2 separate regions of the Homo sapiens genome follow, and region 2 is linked to region 1. Evidence: fine-mapped expression QTL. A gene starts in region 1. The other region holds a variant in brackets. All regions are shown on one strand. Distances are from middle to middle.

Evidence for each region. PIP is the estimated chance that this variant, and not a neighbour inherited with it, causes the effect. A credible set is the group of variants that fine-mapping cannot tell apart.
Region 2: its variant is the best candidate, but not a certain one, in a credible set for the expression of ARSK in lung (GTEx, PIP 0.83).

Annotation. Positions count from the first base shown.
Region 1 is chr5:95,552,451-95,557,836 of GRCh38, reverse strand. ARSK (arylsulfatase family member K) reads right to left here and starts at 2,736. Exons shown (of 8, transcript NM_198150.3): 1 at 2,433-2,736. The coding sequence starts at 2,558. SKIC3 (SKI3 subunit of superkiller complex) reads left to right here and starts at 2,860. Exons shown (of 43, transcript NM_014639.4): 1 at 2,860-2,901.
Region 2 is chr5:95,636,829-95,642,214 of GRCh38, reverse strand. No RefSeq gene overlaps it. Among named protein-coding and RNA genes, the nearest start is that of RFESD, 7.3 kb to the left of the region's middle. The variant G/A (reference allele first, on the strand shown) is at 2,302.

The DNA.
Region 1 (5,386 bases):
TTTTCATTTGGTTTGCTTGTTTTCTTGGGAGTTGATCTACAAAGCTCTTGCGTTGTTATCCTGAAAGTAAAACCAATTTGCTATTTTCTTCCTACAATTATTATCCAGCTTAACTGCTCTATCTTAGCCTGCAGAGTTTTAGAAATGATAAATCACAGTGTCAAGAATCTAACAGCATACCAAACTGGTATAATCATAGAGAGAGGAATTATTTTAAGTTTAAAGACCAACATTTTTACTATATAGTTGAATATACCTAAAACAAAAACTTCAAAGAAACTGTAAGCTGCACTCAGGACTAGCATTATTTCTAGTAATATTACAGTCTTATTTTCAAACACATTGATATATACATATTATATGTTTGGATAAAGCAAATAAGTAATTGCATTAATGCATTTAGACCAAAATATTTGGCATAAAACAAAAAAGATATAAGTATAAAAATCAAAGAATAAACTTGTAATCTTAAATTTGAATGGAAAGTATCAGTATGATCTCACAATTTATTTTTCTCATTCTAAAATATTATATACTTTCTAGATTTGTCCACTGGAAAGGTCTAGATGCAATGAACACCCTAACACTCAGACTGTGGTCTCTAAATACAAGATGGGACAGGAAATATGTATTGTGGACATGGAACTCTGTTAAAGCAAGCTGTCAAATACTAATGGGGATGGGTCAAAAGGACTCAGAACCACCTGAAGGGGCTTCCACTGGCCAAAGATAGGACAGTTTGAATATTAACAAGTATGTGAATGCAAAAATTTTTTTTATTTTTTATTTTTTAAAAATTTTTTTATTTTTATTTTTATTTTTTTTTCGAGACGGACTCTCGCTCCGTCGCCCAGGCTGGAGTGCAGTGGTGCGATATCAGGTCACTGCAAGCTCCGCCTCCCAGGTTCACGCCATTCTCCTGCTTCAGCCTCCCGAGTAGCTGGGACTACAGGCGCCCGAAACCACGCCCGGCTAATTTTTTTGTATTTTTAGTAGAGACGGGGTTTCACTGTGTTAGCCAGGATGGTCTTGATCTCTTGACCTCGTGATCCGCCCACCTCGGCCTCCCAAAGTGCTGGGATTACAGGCGTGAGCCACCGCGCCCGGCCGTGAATGCAAAAAATTTAAGCACAAATATAGAAAAATCTATGCATTCATACTACACTAAAAAAAATAACAAACCTATATATCTCAGTCATCTTTGGAAGTTTCTGGGATGTTGTGATCCACATTCGGATTCCCTTTTAGGAATGAACAATTGCCTCTGCTGAAGACAGCTGCTTTGCCCAACACCATGCCCCATTCTAGGAGCAGCCCACAACCAGTGGCCATCCAACATGCAGGTGGAAAGGTCTGTTCTCCTCACTCCTATTGGAAAGCAGCTCTGAAGCACCATACTAGTTTGAGAACTGTCATTCATAAGATGGCAACAAAATTCAGCTTCTCCTCTGCACAATCCTGCTTCCTTCATTTGCCTTTGATTACAAGAGCACTCTGTAATAAAATGCCATCTAGTCAATTTCCAGTACTGCCCATTCTCTAAGTTTAAATCACAAAGATAACTTTAAGTAATATTTTCAAAAAATCCCATGGGCACATCCAGACTATGTAATTTTAATCATCAGGAATCTACGAGAAAGGAAATACAACATATGATTACAAACACTCTTTAGTGCCAGATATGCTTAACACCAACATCTGTGTGACCACAGTAACACCGAGTGATAATAAACTAATATTACAATTAATAACCAAACAATTGTCTAAGCAGCACTTTTTAAAACATGGATCATCCTAAAAGCATCGCGTAAGGTTGACAGTAGCACCTTTGGCTTGGGAAAGTTTCAAAAACTGTTTAAGTTTGGGATTCAGCCACATTACCAACACACACACATACACACAATTTCTCTGGAATACGGGGGAGTGAATCAAGTTATACCAACGATTCCATTTGAATCAGCACTAACAGGATTATCACAGACCTGGGTAATAAAAATAAACTTTCTTCACTTCTCACCCAAACATGAATTCCTGCAAACTTGAGGTGAACTGGAAAATGACTTTTGGAAAGCTAACACGCTTTTATGGAGATGCAGAATGTTATTTTACCACACAATTAAACCAAACGGGGGTATGGACTGAAAGTTCATTAGTCGTGGTAAAATAATTTAGCGAATCGAGGTCAGTATTAAAAAAAAAAGATCTGCAAAGATGTTTTCAGTGTTTCACTATTGTTTTACATGTTTGCATAGGTATGTGGTGTACGTGTGAGTACACGGGGCCTCACATAAAATGTATTTCTTTCTTTGCATCGGGGTAAAAGGTGTTTGAAAATGTCTCAGGTTCTGCTCCCCAAAGCCTGCAGCACAGGCGGCGGCGGTGAGGTCGCCGATCCCCAGCGGGGCGCCCCTCCCCTGCCTCGCGGTACTTACGAAGGAGTCGCTCACGACCAGCACCACATTGGGCGCTTTGGCTGCTCTCCGCCTCTGCTCCCCTGCTCCGGGGGCCAGTACCGCCAGCGCCAAGGCTGCGACCACCGACACCCACAGCAGTAGCATCGCCGGTAGCGGTTCTGAGAGCCTGCCGCCGGGCCAGCCGCCTCCCTCTGGCGTTCTCTCCCTAGCAGAGCAGGGCAGGGACAGCGAACAACTCCCAAAGCTTGCAGTTTGGTTGCTTGATAGTAACGCCGAGCTTCACCCGCAGAACTACAACTCCTATCAGGCGGAGAGCGCGCACATGCGCAACAGAGAAATTCCCGCTTTTACCCACGTTAAGACCTTTTAATCAAATACCGAGCAAATCAGAACCCAGCCACTTCCAGTCACGTGAATGAGTCCTGGGAAAGGCGCATGCGCTCTCATTGCAGCCTCGGCGTTTGTAGAAGAGGAGCATCTGCTCCAGGTGGGTTTGGATTTCTGTCGGTTTTGCACAAGGGATCCTAAAGGCGATTGAAATGGTACTTAGAGAAAGAAAGGATCGGGGCCGGGGCTGTTCATTTTGGGCCGCGCAAGCGTGGCTGAGTGTTCGGCGAGAGCGTGAACTGGGCGGCGATGAGGTGGCGGCGCGGCTGTCACTTAAGTTGAATAGGGCGGTGCCTTGTGGGGCCTCTGGGTGGACCGCCTCAGGTGCGCCGTGAATGCCTTAGACCCCCCCGAATACCTTCCCAGGGAAATCTCTAGCCTGTCTCATCTTATTGCTTCTCTTACCCCGTGCAGTCAGGATTTACTGTGCTCCCATGGGGCGAGGAGCGGGGCCTAGTAAGAAGTTTCAGGCTGTAGGCAGGGGAAAGCATAGCTGTTCCTTGCCTTCAGAGAGCAAAGGAGATAAGCGAAACTGGAGGGGGAAATGGGCTGTGTGACATGTTCAGTTAGTTGACGTAGGTTCAGAATATCATTGTTTTGCTGCAGAATAAAAACCGGTCTCTTTTGACTGTTGAATTCCTTTGGAGAGTTCTGGAAGAAGCAGATTTCTGTCCCAAAGCCAAATTCCAATTTCTGTATCTAGTTTCGGGTATATAATTTGCACATCACACTAGTAGTTTTAATATTCTGACAGTTAAAAGAGGAGTTATACTACTTACTTAAGTCAACTGAATACTAATATCTGGCAGGTTTTTTTTTGCCTAAGATAATTGTAGTAAGGAACAGATTTGTTTATTTAATACTCACATGGCACTTAGGTGCTGAGCGTTATACTAAGCATTTACTGAGCATCTGCTGCGTGCCACGTACTTTTATATGGAATATTTTCTATAATCCTCACTTTCACCATATTGCAGATAGGAAAACAGGCTTAGAGAGGTTAAATGACTGGCCTGAGTTTACACAGGGAGCCAGTCAGAGCACGACTGAAAATTGAAGAGTCTGTGCCGTAACTCACTAAATGCTCTGTCTGCAGTTAGTTTATCTGTTAGTGTAGCAGAATTGTTACTCAAGCAGCATGATAAAGATCTGCGGGAGCATGCAAAAACGTAAACAGTGTTGGGCGCGGTGGCTCACGCCTGTAATCCCAGCACTTTGGGAAGCCGAGACGGGCGGATCACCGAAGGTTAGGGGTTCGAGACCAGCCTGGCCAGCATGGTGAAACCCCGTCTCTACGAAAAATACGCAAAATACTGGGCGTGGTGGCGGGCGCCTGTAATCCCAGCTACTAGGGAGGCTGAGGCAGGAGAATCACTTGAACCCAGGAGGTGGAGGTTGCAGTGAGCTGAGATCGCACCTTTGCACTCCGCCTGGGCAACAAGAGCAAAACTCCATCTCAAAAAAAAAACAAAAACAAAAAAACCCCTAAACAATAGTCTCAGTTTACATGAGTTTAGATTTCAGGGAAGCAAAACCAAGCATACATGAAATAATAATACAGCACGGAAGGTAATACAAGTGGGCTCTCTCATAAAAACAAATTTGTTTTGAGTTAATTTGGAATGTAGAACGTATTTTCTACCATAGTGACAATATTGACTGACATTTAAATTCATAAAAGTTATATTTAATTTTGTGTCTGATTCCATAAACTGTGCTTACTCTCTACAGCCTTGTTTCCACAGGACATGTACTCTGATGACAGGCTTACAAGAATACATCTTTTTCTTCTTTCTCCCCTTGGCAGTGTCAATAGGAGCAGGTGCTGCAGTGATTTGGAGCAAGACAGATATTTTAGAGCCTTAGAGACGTTGTGCTGGAAGAATCTAAGAGGCTTCTAGTCCTACTTCCCATCTGACATTCAGTTTATCCTAAAACATTCCTGCTGAGTGGATTGTCCAGCCTGTGCTTTTTCATCTCCAGTGATGGGAAACACTTCCATTGAGTACCTCATTCCACATTTATATAGGTCTCATTAAAAGTTCCTATTTTAAGTTGAAGTTAATCTTCCTCTATTTTTAACCATTCATTAGTGCATTTTTCTTCACTTTTACATGGATAATCTCTCCCTTTCAACAGTCCTTCCCCCAACTCCCTCGCCACCATTTATTTATTTTTCCTAGTCCCCAGTTTCTTCAGCTAGTTCTCATAATTTCAGGTTTCCTCATTGTTTTGATTACTCTTTTGTGAACGTACAACATTTTTGCTAATCAGTAATTCTATGCTATCAGAAAAGGTACTCAAGAGAATGTAACCATTTGCCTCACTGCCTACTTCCCTCCCGCCATTTTTCACTCCTGCATGCTCTCCTCTAGAATACTGAGTTCCGAAAGCCCTCTTTGGAAAGTGTGGGTCACAGATGCTTCTGTGGCTTGTTTTTCCCCAGGCGTGTGCTCAAAGTGTGGCTCAATAAACATCTACTGATTGAGACACTTCCCTCAGTCACTCATTTTTTTGTTAACACTGGTAAGCCTTGGAAGCTGGAAGATCATTAGCTATTTATTGAATATGTATTATCCAGTAAG
Region 2 (5,386 bases), 84 kb before region 1:
ACTGTCCTCTCTAGCGGACAGACTAGATTGTACCCTCTCTACAGGTACACAAATCTGTAGAAAGAAGAAAGGAGCTAAGCTGAGCATACCAGGAGAAGTGAGTGAAGGTTGGAGATTTGACTAGCTGAAACACTTCTTGTTCACTGCTGATTTTTATCTTCCTGGTGGGACTCCAAGTCCTGAGCATTAAGCAAATGATACACAGCTGACGTAAGTGGGGGTGTGGAGAAGAGAGTCTGATCAGCAAATACCACCGAACCTACATTGAGCCTGAAGCAAAACACTGGCCATTTGTACCAAGCCAGGCTTAGCAAATACACACAACAGAGCTATGTGGGCCCAGCAAAGGCAAACCCCAGAGAGCTTTAGGTGACGTGGGCCTCGGGTGCAAGCTGCTGCTCCTTGACCTTCAACAACATTCAGAACATATTCATTCTGCTACACTGAGTGTTAGCAGAGATAGGGAGGCCACAAAGACCTAAGAAAGCAGGTATAACTAAGACAAGGTCTAAATTATGTCTTTAAGGACTTTGGCCTTTCAGACAGTAGTGGGTAGAGTCAGGTTTGCTGCAGTTAGAGGTAGTGATATTGATGAAACTGAAGCTTCAGGTTCCCATATTTGCATGGGGCCTTCCAAGATCCTGAGGTCCTGAGGGACACTAGTAATGTGTTCACATGGTCATATGCTCTCGCCCTCTCACCCCTACCCCTCACATATATAATTATATATAATTTGGTAACAAACACAAAAATACAGAAAAATACAGGGAAACTCTATTCCCAAACGCCCATTTGAGAGTATAGTACCAATCTGATGCCCCGTCAGTCCCTAATGCTTTAGTATGTATTTTCTCCAAATCTGGACATTCTTCTACATAACCACAATACAACCATCCAAATCAGGAAGTTAACACTGACACACTACCATCTAATCCTCAAATTCAGTTCAGAATCAAGATTGTATGTTTAGTTTTCATGTCTCTAGCTTTCTTCAGTCTGAGATATCTCCTTAGTCTTTCTTTAACATTTATGATATTTGCATTTTTGAAGATTACAGGCCATTCATTTTGTAGAATATCCCTCAGTTTGAGTTCATCTGATGTTTCCTCCTGATTAGATTCAGGTAATGAAGGCACATCACAGAGACTGGACTTTGAGCCTCTGTAGGCTGCCCCTTGATTCCCTTCCCACTGGGCTTGAGCTGGCCGTGCTATGTCACTACACCATGTTGCCATCTATCCCACTAGGGCTCTGACACTCCTCTGTGAGCCACCTTGGTCACTCCTCCTTCTCATCCCCCTAGCCAGCATGTGTGTCTTCCCCGCTCTGTCCCACCTACTGGCTTTAGGACTGAATTGTTCAGAAAGGAGAAAGAAGACAGGGAGGAATAATGATAATAATGTTTTTGTAAAATGTGTAAAAGCAAAGTAATTTAACTTCTGTGGATCAAGGCCATTGTTTTTCTTCTGTCACTCAGACATTTTGGGGACCTGGCTAAGGGGCGTCTGAGTTGGAAATACATTTAGTTTGGTTTTAGTGGGATATAGTTGTATGGTTTATAGCTTCCAAGAATTCTCCAGTTGCCCACTGTGGTGACTCTCCCTGTATACCCAAATGAGGGTGAGGGCGAGGGTTCTCTCAAAATGTGAAGGTGGGACAGTGCCCGACATGGAAGTATGTGAGTCCTAGAGCAGAAGCCAGATTTGAAATGGATGGAGCCAGAAATTAGGCTGTAGAAAATTCTATCATCAGATGTTCGGTAATGTTGTAAGTATGGGATTCTGTTCTCATTGACAGTACACATGAAATGTGCTTAATAATGACATCATGTAAACTATAAATCCACCACGTCTTTTTTGATGGGAATCACGTGAAATAGAATTTATCAGAACTCCTATGTCTAAAGTACACAAACCTGTACCGAGTCTACAAACTAAGTTTGTTTTATGCTTCCTATCAATTAAAAAAAGATTAATACTGTAGGAAAGATTGAATTATCTATCTGTTCCATTTATATAAAATATTATCATAAAATTATTGTGTGAAGGGATGACTAGAGAGTAAGTAGACAAGATTGTAGACAAAAAGTATTATAGAGGTATGCCTGGCAATTAATGTTTGCTGTTATGGCCATTTTAAAATATTTGTATTTTTTGTGATCATTCTTTCTAATTAAATATTCGCTTTTACATATATTTTTAAATGTATTGTTTTGTATCTTTTTCTTAAAGAGAACCCTTCCCCACTTCGTCACCTAAATCTATACCCAGCTGCATTTAAAATGTAAGGCGGCTGAGCTCC[G/A]CGTGTGCCTAACTGGAAATTGTCTCTGTGGGGTTGGGGAGGCAGCACTGCTTCAGATTTCATTCTGCCTTCTAGGCCAGAGAGGGAACTGTGGAAGGACAAACCTTGGATTCCTGTAGTACGTCCACATGCTCAAAGTCACTCCACATCATCCATGGAGTCAAGAGAGCTCTGGAGAAAGTGTAGCTCAAGGCAGATTGTTTAGCCTGCCACTGAAAACAGCCACTGAGGCACAGGATTGAAAGCATGCTCCCAAGAGAGCTCCATGTCACTAGATAGAGATCTTGCTCAATTAAGTACAAGGGCTCAGAATGGAAACGGCGATGAAGAGAATTTTAATTGGTAAGACGTGAACGACACTTGGAGACTGGGGCCTCCACCTTTGTAAATTTCTAAACTTGTTGGAAGGCAGAATGACTATTGCCCGTGTCTATGAATGGCTCTCCTTCTGCCCACCCGTCCCCCAGATTTGTTCAGCACAATGCCCAAATTAACCTCTTATGAAAAGATTTCTCCCAAATAGTTTACCTGCACAGAATATAGGTTTGGATTGCCTTCACTGACTGACTGACAGCCACCCTGAGGAAGTTGAGACACAGAGTCTCTCCTCTCAGATTCTAAGCCTATGCTAGAGTTTTTGGGTTCTAGAAGTACATCTTTATTTGGCAATTGCTCCAGGGACAGAGAATGGTTTGTTTCCTAACTTTGGTGGGTAGGTGAGAGGCTAGTGCTACAATAATGTTCTGGCTTCTGCTGAGACTTTTAACACTTTAAAAGAGTGAGGCTCCTCAGAAAATGGAAAATGAACAAATACAGCTTCAGAGATAGACTGTAGCTGCAGCTGCTTAAGGCTTTAGGAGCACCCCCAGCTGAGGCTATGCAGAATCAGAAACAGGAAAAGCTCTGATTTTTTTCGTAGAAGTGCAGAAAATTTTGATTTTCGAACTGTGACCCTTCAGATTTTGATAACTTTGGGCTTTACCTTGCAAGAGAATTTAATCTCTGAGCCTCAATTTCCCCCTAGACATTAGTTTAGAGCCCAGATGTGATGGTTTTGGTTTTTGTTTTTTAGTTGTTGTTGTTTCATTTTCAATGGGGCCCCTGTAGCCCCAACAGAGGAGAGCATCCAGGAGTGGGAGTCAAATTGAAGTCCTTTCACATGAAACTCAAGGGGTAAGGCATGCGTATTTCCATCTGATCCTCTGCTAGGGCTGGTGTTTCTGGCATGTGTGTGCTTCATTGAGTGTGGAAGGTTATTGTGAAGATAGCAGAGGCTGCTAGAAGGTGTCCATTTGCAGAGTAGTTTTGCCCATTGAACTTTAAAGGCTCTGAGAGTTTCTGCTGTAAAGAAACCTGGTTGAGAAGGGAAGAATAAATGAGAAGATGTCAAGGGAAGACATTCAGAAAAATCCAGAATGTGGAATATTCTATTAATACAAGACAACTGGCTTGGTCTCATAAAAAACACAGTACTCTTTTTAAAAAGTTCAGGAAGACTGTTTTAAAATAAAAGGCACTAAACAGACATAACAATCAAATGCAATGTGTGAACTCTAATTAGATTTTAGTTCAAAAGAAAAAGTTATCTATACAAGTAGTATTGAGAAAAAAAGGGAAAATTTGAACATGGACTGGGCATTACATGGTATTATCCCCTTATGGAAAATTATTGTTAGTTTTCTTAAGTGTTATAATGCTTCTATGGTTATGTAAGAATGTCTTAGGAGATGCATGCTCAAGTATTTGGAGGCGAAGTGTAATGTTATCATGAGTCTGCAACTGATTTTCAAGTTATTCACCAGCAACAACAACTATATACATATATATAAATGAAGATGGCAAAATGCTGAACTTTAGTGGTTAATGTGTGGGTGTTCTTTTGTGTTACTGTTAGCTTTTCTGTAACTGTATAATAAGAAGTTAAAGAAAAAGAAGCGTATTTAACCTAGTGTTCCAAACACTTGACTATGAAACTCTTTGTTCCCCTTATAATAACATTAATACATTAAGCATCTTCTGCTTCTTAGAGTACACTCTGTGGCTAGGGCAAGTTCTTAGTAGCTATATTTAAAAATATACAATAATGATAAAAGCTAAGTGAAAAATAAAAATCTTCTTGAAAATTCAAAATGCACACTAAAAGCCCATCTCAATAACTTAGAAAGAGCAGGTCTAATGCTCTTGACATAGTGGTGTGACTTCATTGACCAGACAGATGAAGGTCAAAGCTTGCACAATGATTCCTGAATGTCTAGTAGGCATTACCCAAAATGTTTCTCTTAGTATAACCTCAAGGATGACGATCCAGGCTAAAGGTTTGTTTGTTTGTTTGTTTGTTTTTGCTTTTGTTTTTGTTTTTGAGATGGAGTCTCGCTCTGTCACCCAGGCTGGAGTGCAATGGCATGATCTTGGCTCACTGCAAACTCCGCCTCCAGGTTCAAGCAATTCTCCTGCCTCAGCCTTCCAAGTAGCTGGGAGTACAGGTGCACACTACCACACCCGGCTAATTTTTATATTTTTAGTAGAGAATGGGTTTCTCCATGTTGGTCAGGCTGGTCTCAAACTCCTGACCTCAGGTGATCCACCCGCCTCAGCCTCCCAAAGTGCTGGGATTACAGGCGTGAGCCACCACTCCCGGCCCTAAAGTTTTAATCATCTGTATACTTCTGTGCTTAAAGAACTACATGAAATAATAGATCAGTTAGAACACTCTCAGGAAGAGATGTAAAGAAAAATTTGCAGGCATAATTGATGCAAAGTACACAGAATAAGATTAATAAAATTATTATTTATACTTTTAATCTGAATCCATAGCATTTATAAATGTGTATCATTTGATTTCCTTCAGTGGAGATTTGGGGATGTATAGTTGATTTGGATGTCATCTACTTTCTCTTTTTCTGGTAGAAGTTTCTTTTAGGGAATTCCTCTTGGGCAACACTTCTTCTACATGGTCTAGGTGGGCCACATACACACCCCTGCCCCCAACCTTTCATATACAAAGAGTGTACACATAACGCAGATCTGACCATGCACCCAATTCAGTGCAGTCAATTATAGATATTTTGCTTAAATTATGTGAAAC